Linked DNA regions of Homo sapiens. The protein of the gene in region 2 purifies or fractionates together with the protein of the main gene of each other region. This does not show direct contact. Each region holds a gene or a part of one and is shown on either strand. Other genes may lie near its edges.

Region 1 (3,731 bases), on a different chromosome or scaffold from region 2:
AGCAGAACGTTGATTTAGAGGAATGATATGGCTTTTTTCAAAGCTGTTTGAAAAAAGGTATTTCATGTGAATAAAATACCTTCTGCTTGGAAGATTACCAAGAATGAGGACTTTATCTGAGACTTCCATAATCATTCAGAATTACTTAAAAGTAAAGCACAGCACTCTAGGGTTTGCTGATTGTTGAGAAATTGCATGATGGCTGACTGTTGTCAGTGCCTATATTTTGATTATCTTGAGTAAACCTATCCCTAGGAATGCAGTAAAAAGTATATGTTTTGGGTGGAAGGCAAAATATTGAACTCTGTCCCTATAATGTCATGACTTCACACTTCAGGAAGTCTACTCAATAGACTTTTAAAATGTTGTGTTTGCTTTTGCATCCCCTTCCCAACCAACCAAACCACCAGCCCACCCCCATTCATCCATTCATTTGCCCATCCGTCTACTCCCCTTACCCACATATCTATCTACCCTACCTCCTACCTAAAAAAGAAGTCATTGGGTTTTGCAAGTATAAATTCTCTGTACTGAGAATCCTACTAACCACATTGATTATGTGAATGAACATAGTGCATGTTCTGGTTTTTTTGTTAGAATACTTAAAAGATTGAAGTTGATTGTCCTAATGGTATGGTTATGGATGTATTAAAGTAGCTGTTTAGTTTTTAATAACTCATTACAGATATATAAGTACAAAACAATGCTGTATGTTTCTGAGTATAGTATTTTAAAAAAGTGAGATTGTTTAACATTTTTAAGCTCTTTTTACACTTGTAAATAAGAAATAAATTTACCCAGTGATCAGTACCGTATCGACATATTGAAAGAAACAGATTGGGTGTCCCTTTTTTGAATTGCTTCATACCAGAAGTGTTGCAGGTTTTGAGTTTTTCTGGATTTTGGAGTATTTGCATTATATACTGGTTCAACATCCTTAATCCAAAAATCTGAAATTCTGAGCATTTCCTTTGAACATCATGTTGGTGCTCAAAAAGTTTTTGGATCTTGGAGCATTTTGGATTTTCAGACTTGGGATGCTCATCATGTATAGGAAAAACCTTGTGTTTTGGAGGACTCTGCCTTCTTCACCTTAGTTTTACTTGCTAGTAACTTTTATAGATCTTAATAGCATGCCTTTATCTATCTATCTCTGGCTTTATTTTCCTTCAGTCTGTAATTTTTAATGGCAACCAAACAGTTTTGAAAAAAGCCATATCATTCTGTTTCTATAAATAGGTGTGTGTACACACACACACACACTAAATTGTAGATATGATGGTTCATTATCCCCAAACATTTTAGTATATTTCTAAAATCAAGAACATATTACAATTATCAAAATCATGAAATTAACCTTGATCCAGTGTTATCTAGTTATAGAACTGATTCTAATTTTACCGGTTGTTTCACTAATGTCCCTTATAACAAAAGGAAAACAAAATACCTTCTTCCCCCTTATCCAGGATCCAATCAAGGATTGCATGTTTCATTTACTTATTGTGTTGCTTCAGTCTGTTACATACTCAATGTTTTTTGTCTTTCATGAATGAATGTGACATTTTTGAAGAGTACAGCCATTTATTTTGTAGCATATCCTTCAGCTTGGGTTTGTTTAATATTTCTGCTTGAGTAGGTTCAGATTATGTACTTTTGGCAGTGATGCCACAGAATTGATATTGTATCATTTTTAGTGCATTGTATCAGTAGACACATGATAGAATTTGTCCTGTGTGTGAATTTTGAGCTTTTGGTTGAAGTTGTGTCTGCCAGGTTTTTTCACTATAAAGTTATTATGTTTTCCTTTATATTTAATAAGAATCTAATGAGGAGACACTTTCAGACTATCCTGTTTCTCTTTTAAGTTTCAGTCACTAGTTTTTAGCATCCATTGTGATTCTTCCCTAAAACAGTTATTACTGTGGTAGTTGCTAAATGGAGTTTTGCAATTTCTGTCATTCCTTCTATGTTTTTAAGACTTGTTTTACTATAAGCAAGAGTTTTCCCTTCTCCCACATTCATTTATTCTTTTAGTAATATCTATATGAACTCCTGATTTCTCATTTTGTGGTCTATATCTTTAATATCACTGTAATATCATAATATCAGTAATACCACTCATCATTAATTTTAATCCCACATTTTTTTTTTTTTCAGATTTGACCAGTGGGAGTTATTCAAATGGCTCTTAGGTTTTTTTTTTTGATGCAGCCACATCTTTTTTTTTGCCTACTTCTGTACTTCCCGGCACAGCAAGGTGTTTCAGGCTGATCTTGTACTTTCTCTTTTCTGGCCCTGGAATCAGCCCTTTTTTTCTCCTTTTCTTTCTTCAAGACACCCTTGTCTTATTCCTGTTAGTGGAGAACGTTACTAAGAAACCAAGCTTTGTGCTCATTGCTGTTGGGGTATCACTGAGTCTAGGCCTTCTCAGTGATTAGAGCTAGGGGTGTGTGTGTGTTTATACATCTATATCTAATTCTCTACATAAATTAAAACCATGAATTTTTACAGACGTCTCCAGTTATAGAAGGTTCACTCTAGTTTTCTGCCCTTCCATATTGTAATGCCCTTCTCTGACAGTGAGAAACCTGGCTCCTATTATCTATAATATGTTTATGTTTTTGCTTAATCCTGGAATATGTATATGATAGTTTCAGAATTGTTAATCCACACCACTGTGAAAAATAGACCCAAAACTAGAATTCAATATTTGCTTATATTTTATCTTCAGCCTGAAGGCTTATAAGATTCAAAATACTATGCTCACAAGTTGCTTGTGTTAGTCCCTTTCCTCACCTTAGTGTGCTTATGTTTGAAAAAAGTACAATTAGTTTAATTTGTTTTTGTTGTACTTTGTTTTGCCCCAACCTCCCCTTCTTTTAAGGTGTTATTTTTTAGTATGTAAAACACTAACATTTAGATTCTTAAAGTCAGAACTGTATAAAACATGTGCTCATTGTTATTTCCCTTCCATTTATTCTGCTCTGTTCCCTCCCTGTCTCTTCCACAGTGTTCCCAACCCCTTTCCTCTGAGACAGCCAATCTCAATTGTTTCTGGTTTGTAAGATACCACCTGAATTTAGTACAGATATTATTTTTGTATATGTACATTTAAGGTTAAATGACACAGAAGTTGTTATTTGAATTTACTATGAAGATGATCATACTATGTCTTTCTTTAGCCAAAACCTATTGATGTACAAGTCATTACACACCACATGCAGCGATATGCAGTTTGGTTTGGAGGATCAATGCTGGCTTCCACGGTGAGTGTGATGAAGCTTACTTTTATTTTATTTTATCATTATTATTTTATTTATTTTTGAGGTGGACTTTCGCTCTTGTCACCCAGGCTGGAGTGCAATGGCATGATCTTGGCTCACTGCAACCTCCACCTCCTGGGTTAAAGTGATTCTCCTGCCTCAGCCTCCCAAGTAGCTGGGACTACAGGCATGCGTCACCACACCTGGCTAATTTTGCATTTTTAGCAGAGACTGGGTTTCATCATGTTGGCTAGGTTACTCTTGAACTCCTGACCTTGGGATCTGCCCACCTTGGCCTCCCAAAGCAAAGTGTTGGGTTTACAGGTGTGAGCCACTGCTCCTGGCCTTTATTATTATTATTATTTTTTATTGAGATGAGGTCTTACTATGTTGGGCCAGGCTGGTCTCAAACTCTTGGGCTCAAGTGATCCTTCCACCTCAGCCTCCCAAAGAGCGCTGAGTTTACAG
Region 2 (3,731 bases):
TTCCTTCTCTGTAAATGGGGGAAGGAGAGTGGTGGTAAAAAGAATAAATGATTAAGTACTCTATAATTGATAGCAATTACTAGAGTAGCATCATTGGATTTTGTATGAGAGGATGAGGACACTGTTAATAGCTCCTCTTCTCTTTTCAGACTGTCAGCATCTCCCTACTGTATACATGCTTGATTAATGCTATTAAATATGGTAGGTTCACTAAAAGAATGCCTTTGTTGGTGCAGTTAAAATGGTAATTTGCATCACTGTGAGTAGATCAAAGTGAGCTAAAAAGTTGCAAGTTTCAGGATGATCATAGAGCAAGAATGGCAATATGGATTATTGTGGTGGATCTGCATGTAGACTATTAAATAATCAATATTCAAAAGTTCAAATCATCAGATGTGATACTGTTTTTGAGATGGAGTCTCACTCTGTTGCCCAGGCTGGAGTGCAATGGCGAAATCTCGGCTAACTGCCACCTCCACCTCCCAGGTTCAAGCGACTCTCCAGCCTTAGCCTCCCAAGTAGCTGGGATTACAGGCACTCGCCATCTTGCCTGGCTAATTTTTGTATTTTTGTAGAGGGGGTTTCACCTTGTTGGCCAGACTGGTCTTGAACCCCAGACCTCAGGTGATCTGCCCACTTCAGCCTCCCAAAGTGCTGGGATTACAGGCGTCAGCCACTGCGCCCGGCCAGATGTGATACTCTTGGATGGACTTAAATTCTGAAAAAGAGACTGTGTAGCCTGAAAATGCAATTTAATTTATTATGTAGCAGTTCTCTGCTAGAAACATCTTTCTCAAGTGCAATCCAGATTGATCTTTGTTTTGAATTAAGGACTCTTGCATCCTGATTTTTTTTCCCAGTGTCAAGATAATCTTGGCAAAGATTACTAAAACCAGAGTTGGAAAGTGCGTTGGTGCAGAAACCTCTAGCCAGAATCTCTTAGTGGTCTTGATAGGAAACATAAAGCTTTCCTCTTTTCCAGGGGTCATCTTCTGGGCCTTAAGGTAGACCCAGCCTAAAGAGTGTCTTCATTCTGCATTTGCATTTAGATAAAAGCTGCCCTTTGGGGAACAGGCTGGAGAAAAGAAATAAGGGGAATACGCTTACTTCACTTATATCTTAAAAAGTATAGTTTCTGTTTCTGGAAAAACAAAGAGCGTAAGTGTTTATACCCATGGAATAATATTCCATCTTTGAACCTGTCAGTATATTGTTACTGAAGGCTTAATCAGTTTTTATCTTTTTATAACTATGATCTAGGTCTAAGTAAGAGGCTGCCTGTATATATGGGTGTTTTTGCAGGATATTTATGGTAGAAGTTTCTGCATTGTTGTTTGTTTTCAATGTGTTTTTGAGAGCTTATCCTTTTTTCTTTGTCATCCACAGGTTCGAGAACTTGTCTTGGACAATTGCAAATCAAATGATGGAAAAATTGAGGGCTTAACAGCTGAATTTGTGAACTTAGAGTTCCTCAGTTTAATAAATGTAGGCTTGATCTCAGTTTCAAATCTCCCCAAGCTGCCTAAATTGAAAAAGGTAAGTGCTTTTTCTTTAACAGTAAAAGAGAACGATCCTGGGAAGGGAAAATGTATGATTTTACCTGTAAGGAAGCACTTAGTGTAGCAGAAAGCACATGGCCTTTGGAACTGGGCAGATATGGGATTGAATTCTAGCCCTAGCATTTCCTTGATGGGCAAACTTCTGCAGGTTACTTAATCTCTCTAAGGCCCAATTTCCTCACCTGTAAACTGGTGGTATTACTTGACCTTGCAGAATTGCTGTGAAGTTTGGAAATAATGCATGTTGGGTGCTCAATAAGTAGTAGTTAGGAAGAATAATTACTGTGTTGAGTAATTTATTTGTTAATTGTTATAAAAACAATTCTCTATCCTTTCGGAAAAAGGGACCAAATGCAACATAAAAATGTTTTCTCTTGTCACTGCACATTTAACTGTCACAGAGTCCCAGAATGTCAGAACTGGAAGAAACTTTGCTCCTCTAACCCAACCCCTTATTTTATAGGCACAGCAATAGTCCCAGGAAAGTGTAGTAATTTGCCTAAAGCCACCCACAGAAGTGGTTAGTACTAGAGCCAAAACTAGAACCCGTATCTCCTAACCCCATACCCTTCCCATTATATAGGAAAAGATATGTGGTTATATAAGTCTTGCAGAATTCTCTGCCATTTCAATATTCGCTTTACTAGGAAAGTTAAGTTGTACCTTTATTTAAACTAAGGCACACGTAGAAGGAAACTAATCAAACTTGGGCAAAGGTAGGTTGTGCCTAGAGCTTGCTTGAGTTCTGAGTGGGACAGTTAGTTTTTTGGTATTGGGGTTTGTTTGTTTGTTTGTGGTTTTACAGCAGGTGGAGTGGGTTAAGTATAATACATGAGGCCAGTCATGGTGGCTCACGTCTGTAATCCCAACACTTTGGGAGGCCAAGGTGGGAGGATCACGTGAGGTCAGGAGTTCGAGACCAGCCTGGCCAACATGGCAAAACCCCATCTCTACTAAAAATACAAAAAAATCAGCTGGGCACGGTGGCACGCACCTGTAGTCCCAGCTAGTCCGGAGGCTGAGGCACAAGAATTGCTTGAACCCAGGCGGTGGCTGAGGTTGTAGTGAGCCAAAATCACACCGCTGCATTCCAGCCTGGGCGACAGAGCAAGACTCTGTCTCGATTTAAAAAAAAAAAAAAAAAAAAAGTATAATACATGAATTAAAAACTGGAAGTATTTTTTGTTTTGCTTTCTTTATTTGCCTTGTTTAGGTAATATTAAATGCTCAAGCAGTCTTCGTGAGTTTCAGGTGACCGTTTCTGATGAGAAAGAAATTTCCCCTTCTAAGTATACTAGAGGTTCAAGTATAATTCTTTTATATTTGCATGGGTTATCAGTGACATTGGAAGCTCTGATTAGCCCAGTTAAACATAGTATAGCTTTTTAGCATCTATTTACATAAACTTGATGCTAGCAGATCCTTAGTGTGTGTTTTGTGTTGTTTTCCTAGCATTCTGATTTATTTTCCCAAATTACTGTTGGTCTCTGTACTCTCAGACTTATTCAGAAATTCAGCCTATCAGTGACCGTTTTTATAGGGACTTTAATAAACCTTTCAGAATTCTGAATAGAGCTTGTTTGAGTTCTGAGAAGGACAGGGTTTTTGTTTTTGTTGGTTTTGGGTGGGAGGGCACGTTAAGTACACAAATTAAAAACTTTTAACATTTAAAACATTAATCACTTCCCTTATAGGGCTAATGAGAGGGAATCATACTTAAAGGCAGGTTGAGTGTACTCATGATTGATAAGAACTTTATTTTCTTCCTATTCCAGAACACAAATTGGTTTTGTTTTGTTTTGTTTTTGAGATGGAGTTTAACTCTTGTTGCCCAGGTTGGAGTGCAGTGGTGCCATCTCGGCTCACTGCAACCTCCGCCTCCCAGGTTCAAGCGATTCTCCTGCCACAGCCTCCTGAGTAGCTGGGATTACAGACATGCACCACCACGCCTGGCTACTTTTTGTATTTTTTTTTTTGTAGAGATGGGGGTTTCACCATATTGGTCAGGCTGGTTTCGAACTCCTGACCTCAGGTGATCAGCCCACCTCGGCCTCTCAAAGTACTGGGATTACAGGTGTGAGCCACCGTGCCCGGCCCACAAATTGTTTTTAACAAGAAATAAGTACTGAAAAAAAATTGATGTGTAAATGTCACAAATTTTCTAAATTTACA
Region 3 (3,500 bases), on a different chromosome or scaffold from region 2:
TAAGAACCTCGATAGCAATGCGGTCGTGATCATGGTGAATTACATCTTCTTTAAAGGTAAGGCCCTTGGGCCCAAACCTGCACTTTCTTTGGCTTTTCTGCTGCTTTTATCTAAAGAATACCCAATTCCCTCACATACATAAAAGACGGGGAGTACGTTAAGTTCTTTTGGGTGCCTGTTGAGAAAAATTAAGTAAACAAGCAGCCAGAGAAGGTAAGATGAATGCCTTCTTGCTGTGGATGGGATTAGTGAGGCTGAGATGCTGTTTCCTCCACGGAGGAAGAGCTGGTTGCTGTCTTCGGGCCCCTGGGGACATCTGAAGCCCCAGCTTTCTACAGGCTCTGAAGTATGAACCCATTGTGGCCACCATGGCAAAGACACCAACACCTTAGCCACTCAGGGCAGGACACAGACCCCAGAAGGGCTTAAAGGGCATTTCCCAGTCCCCCGTATCCCTCAGATCTTGGCCCCTCTGCCCTCATAGAGGCCAAGACTCCCTCAGACAAATGCTTGTTCCTCTGAAATGCCTCCTCCTGACTCCTCAGCAAGAGCTGACCTCTGCTTATCTCCCCGACACTCCTTGTAAGCATTCCTGCTCGCCTCTGCAGCTCCTGCCAGTTGCTGACCCTGGGGAAAGCAAGAGTGGATAGAGAGGAGAAGAGAGGAGAGGAGAGGGTGGGAAGGGTTGCGAAGGAAGGTAAATTGTTAACACCTCCCCTTCCTATGGTCACAGATCATGAGTATCTTTGGCCATTTGGGTGGCTATAACAAAATACCATAAACTGGGTGGCTTAGCAACAACAAACATATATTTCTCATAGTTCTGGAGGCTGAGAAGTCCAGGATCAAGGCACTGGCAGATGCAGTGCCCATTCCTTGGTTCATAGAGAGTGCCTTCTTAGTATATCCTTGCTGGAAGGAGGAAGGCAGCTCTCTGTGGTCTCTTTTGTAAGGACACCGATCCTGTTCATGACAGCTCCACCCCCATGACCTAATCAACTCCCAAAGGCCCCCTGTCCTAATACCACCACCTTGGGGGTTAGGTTTCAACATATGAACAATGTGGGGACACAAACATTGAGACCACAGCAGTGAGTGTCGAACTTGGACTCTGAGATTTCCTATCCCCTGGTGCAGGGCAGTCCCCATTACACCAGATTGCTGAGGGCAGCTGGGAAATAAGCTAAGGACGGTATTGACTGGGGTCTTCCTTCGATAACGATTAAGAAGTTGGAAACAGGCCAGGCATGGTGGCTCACGCCTATAATCCCAACATTTTAGGAGGCCGAGATGGGCAGATCACCTGAGGTCAGGAGTTCGAGATCAGCCTGGCCAACATAGTGAAACCCCGTCTCTACTAAAAAATACAGAAATTAGCCAGGCATGGTGGTGGGCGCCTGTAATTCCAGCTACTTGGGAGGCTGAGGCAGGAGAATCACTTGAACCTGGGAGGTGGGGGCTGTAGTGAGCCAAAATTGCGCCACTGCACTCCAGCATGGGTCACAGAGCGAGACTCCATCTCAAAAAGAAGAAAAAAAGAAAAAAAAGAAAAAAAGAAATAAAATAAAATAAAAAGAAGTTGGAAACAATCACTTGTAGCGTTTTGTTCAGAAGTTCCCATAGGAAGGTCAGAGAAGGGTCATTGAAGACTTCCCAATGGGAAAAACCATTCATTTCCAGGATCCATACTAACTTCTTTCTAAAATTTAAATCAAAATATTGGAATGAAAGTGCAAACAGAGAAGTTCACCCAGATATCAGGTAGCATTCACAGCCAGCCACATTTTTCACCCTCTTCACTTGGAGATTTGGTCTTGAGTAAAACGTTAGAGAATCAGAGAACATCAGGGGTCCAGGGCCTCTGAAGATGTGAAAACCAACCTCCTTGTTTTGCAAATGTGGAAGGAAAAGTCCCACGAAAAGTCCAAGAATGTGCCCAATGTTATAAAGAGACTTGCCTTCATATTCAAGAGGTTCAACAGTCACTGCTCTGGGGCTGCCATAAAGATGGTCTCCGCTGGCTATCTTTACTGTCTTCACTCCTTTTATTTGCAGCTGAGAATTTCTAATTCTGACACAAAATTCTTTTTCATTTTTCCCTTTTTTCATCTTTAGCTAAGTGGGAGACAAGCTTCAACCACAAAGGCACCCAAGAGCAAGACTTCTACGTGACCTCGGAGACTGTGGTGCGGGTACCCATGATGAGCCGCGAGGATCAGTATCACTACCTCCTGGACCGGAACCTCTCCTGCAGGGTGGTGGGGGTCCCCTACCAAGGCAATGCCACGGCTTTGTTCATTCTCCCCAGTGAGGGAAAGATGCAGCAGGTGGAGAATGGACTGAGTGAGAAAACGCTGAGGAAGTGGCTTAAGATGTTCAAAAAGAGGTACTTTCAGACTACCCCAGGGCCAGCCTAAACCCACACAGCCCCAGGGAGACACACACGCCCTACCAGGGCCACACAGCACTGGTGGGAAGGACTCACCCAGCCAAGGAGCTGCCTCCAGGCCCAGAGGCATCCTGTGACATCCAAGTCCTGGGGGCCTAGCCCAGTTGGAGGGACAAGAGCTGGAAACTGGGTTCCTTAGGGTGGTGCCAGAGTGGGCAGAGACCTCTGGGCAGCCCACGTCCAAGTCCAGAGCAAGGGGAGGCTCATCCTAGAAAAGAGGCCAGAGGAGCCATAACCACCATTGTTCCTTGGGTTAAGGAGTCCTTTTTTAAAACCATCAAAACTAAGAATCCAGTGCATTATGAATCCAAGGGGTGAGGCTCAGTGTGCCAATGCCCCAGAACAGTCTAAGAAAGCTCCTTTTCCCTTTCCAGGCAGCTCGAGCTTTACCTTCCCAAATTCTCCATTGAGGGCTCCTATCAGCTGGAGAAAGTCCTCCCCAGTCTGGGGATCAGTAACGTCTTCACCTCCCATGCTGATCTGTCCGGCATCAGCAACCACTCAAATATCCAGGTGTCTGAGGTGGGTTCAGAAGCTCCTATGCATCTGCTTCCCAAGGTCTATTCTGTTCTATTCTTTCTATTCTACTCTACCCCATTTCATTCCATTCCATTCCACTCAACTCCACTCCACTCCACTCCACTCCAGTTCACTCTATTCAATTCCACTCCACTCCACTCCAGTTCACTTTATTCAATTCCACTCCACTCCACTCCAGTTCACTCTATTCAGTTCCACTCCACTCCACTCCACTCCAGTTCACTCTATTCCATTCCACTCCATTCCACTCCTCCACTCCTCTCATCCACTCCACTCTACTCCTCCACTCCACATCTCCACTCCACTCCTCCACTCCACTCCTCCACTCCACTCATCCACTCCACTCCTCCACTCCACTCCTCCACTCCACTCCTCCACTCCACTCCACTCATCCACTCCACTCTTCCATTCCACTCCATTCCACTCCTCCACTCCACTCTTCCACTCCACTCCATTCCACTCCTCCACTCCACTCCACTCTATTCTATTCTATTCCATTCCATTCTACTCT

The links.
Region 1: the proteins of ANP32B (region 2) and ACTR3 fractionate together in Homo sapiens (co-fractionation; one large-scale study listed by BioGRID). This does not show direct contact.
Region 3: the proteins of ANP32B (region 2) and SERPINA5 purify together in Homo sapiens (co-immunoprecipitation; one study listed by IntAct). This does not show direct contact.

What each region holds. Positions count from the first base shown.
Region 1 is NC_000002.12:113,952,441-113,956,171, forward strand, and holds part of ACTR3 (actin-related protein 3), read left to right. Parts: intron 1-3,182; coding exon 3,183-3,266; intron 3,267-3,731. UniProt on the Homo sapiens protein: ATP-binding component of the Arp2/3 complex, a multiprotein complex that mediates actin polymerization upon stimulation by nucleation-promoting factor (NPF).
Region 2 is NC_000009.12:97,993,245-97,996,975, forward strand, and holds part of ANP32B (acidic leucine-rich nuclear phosphoprotein 32 family member B), read left to right. Parts: intron 1-1,386; coding exon 1,387-1,536; intron 1,537-3,731. UniProt on the Homo sapiens protein: Multifunctional protein that is involved in the regulation of many processes including cell proliferation, apoptosis, cell cycle progression or transcription.
Region 3 is NC_000014.9:94,587,926-94,591,425, forward strand, and holds part of SERPINA5 (plasma serine protease inhibitor preproprotein), read left to right. Parts: coding exon 1-56; intron 57-2,115; coding exon 2,116-2,386; intron 2,387-2,823; coding exon 2,824-2,971; intron 2,972-3,500. UniProt on the Homo sapiens protein: Heparin-dependent serine protease inhibitor acting in body fluids and secretions. Inactivates serine proteases by binding irreversibly to their serine activation site. Involved in the regulation of intravascular and extravascular proteolytic activities.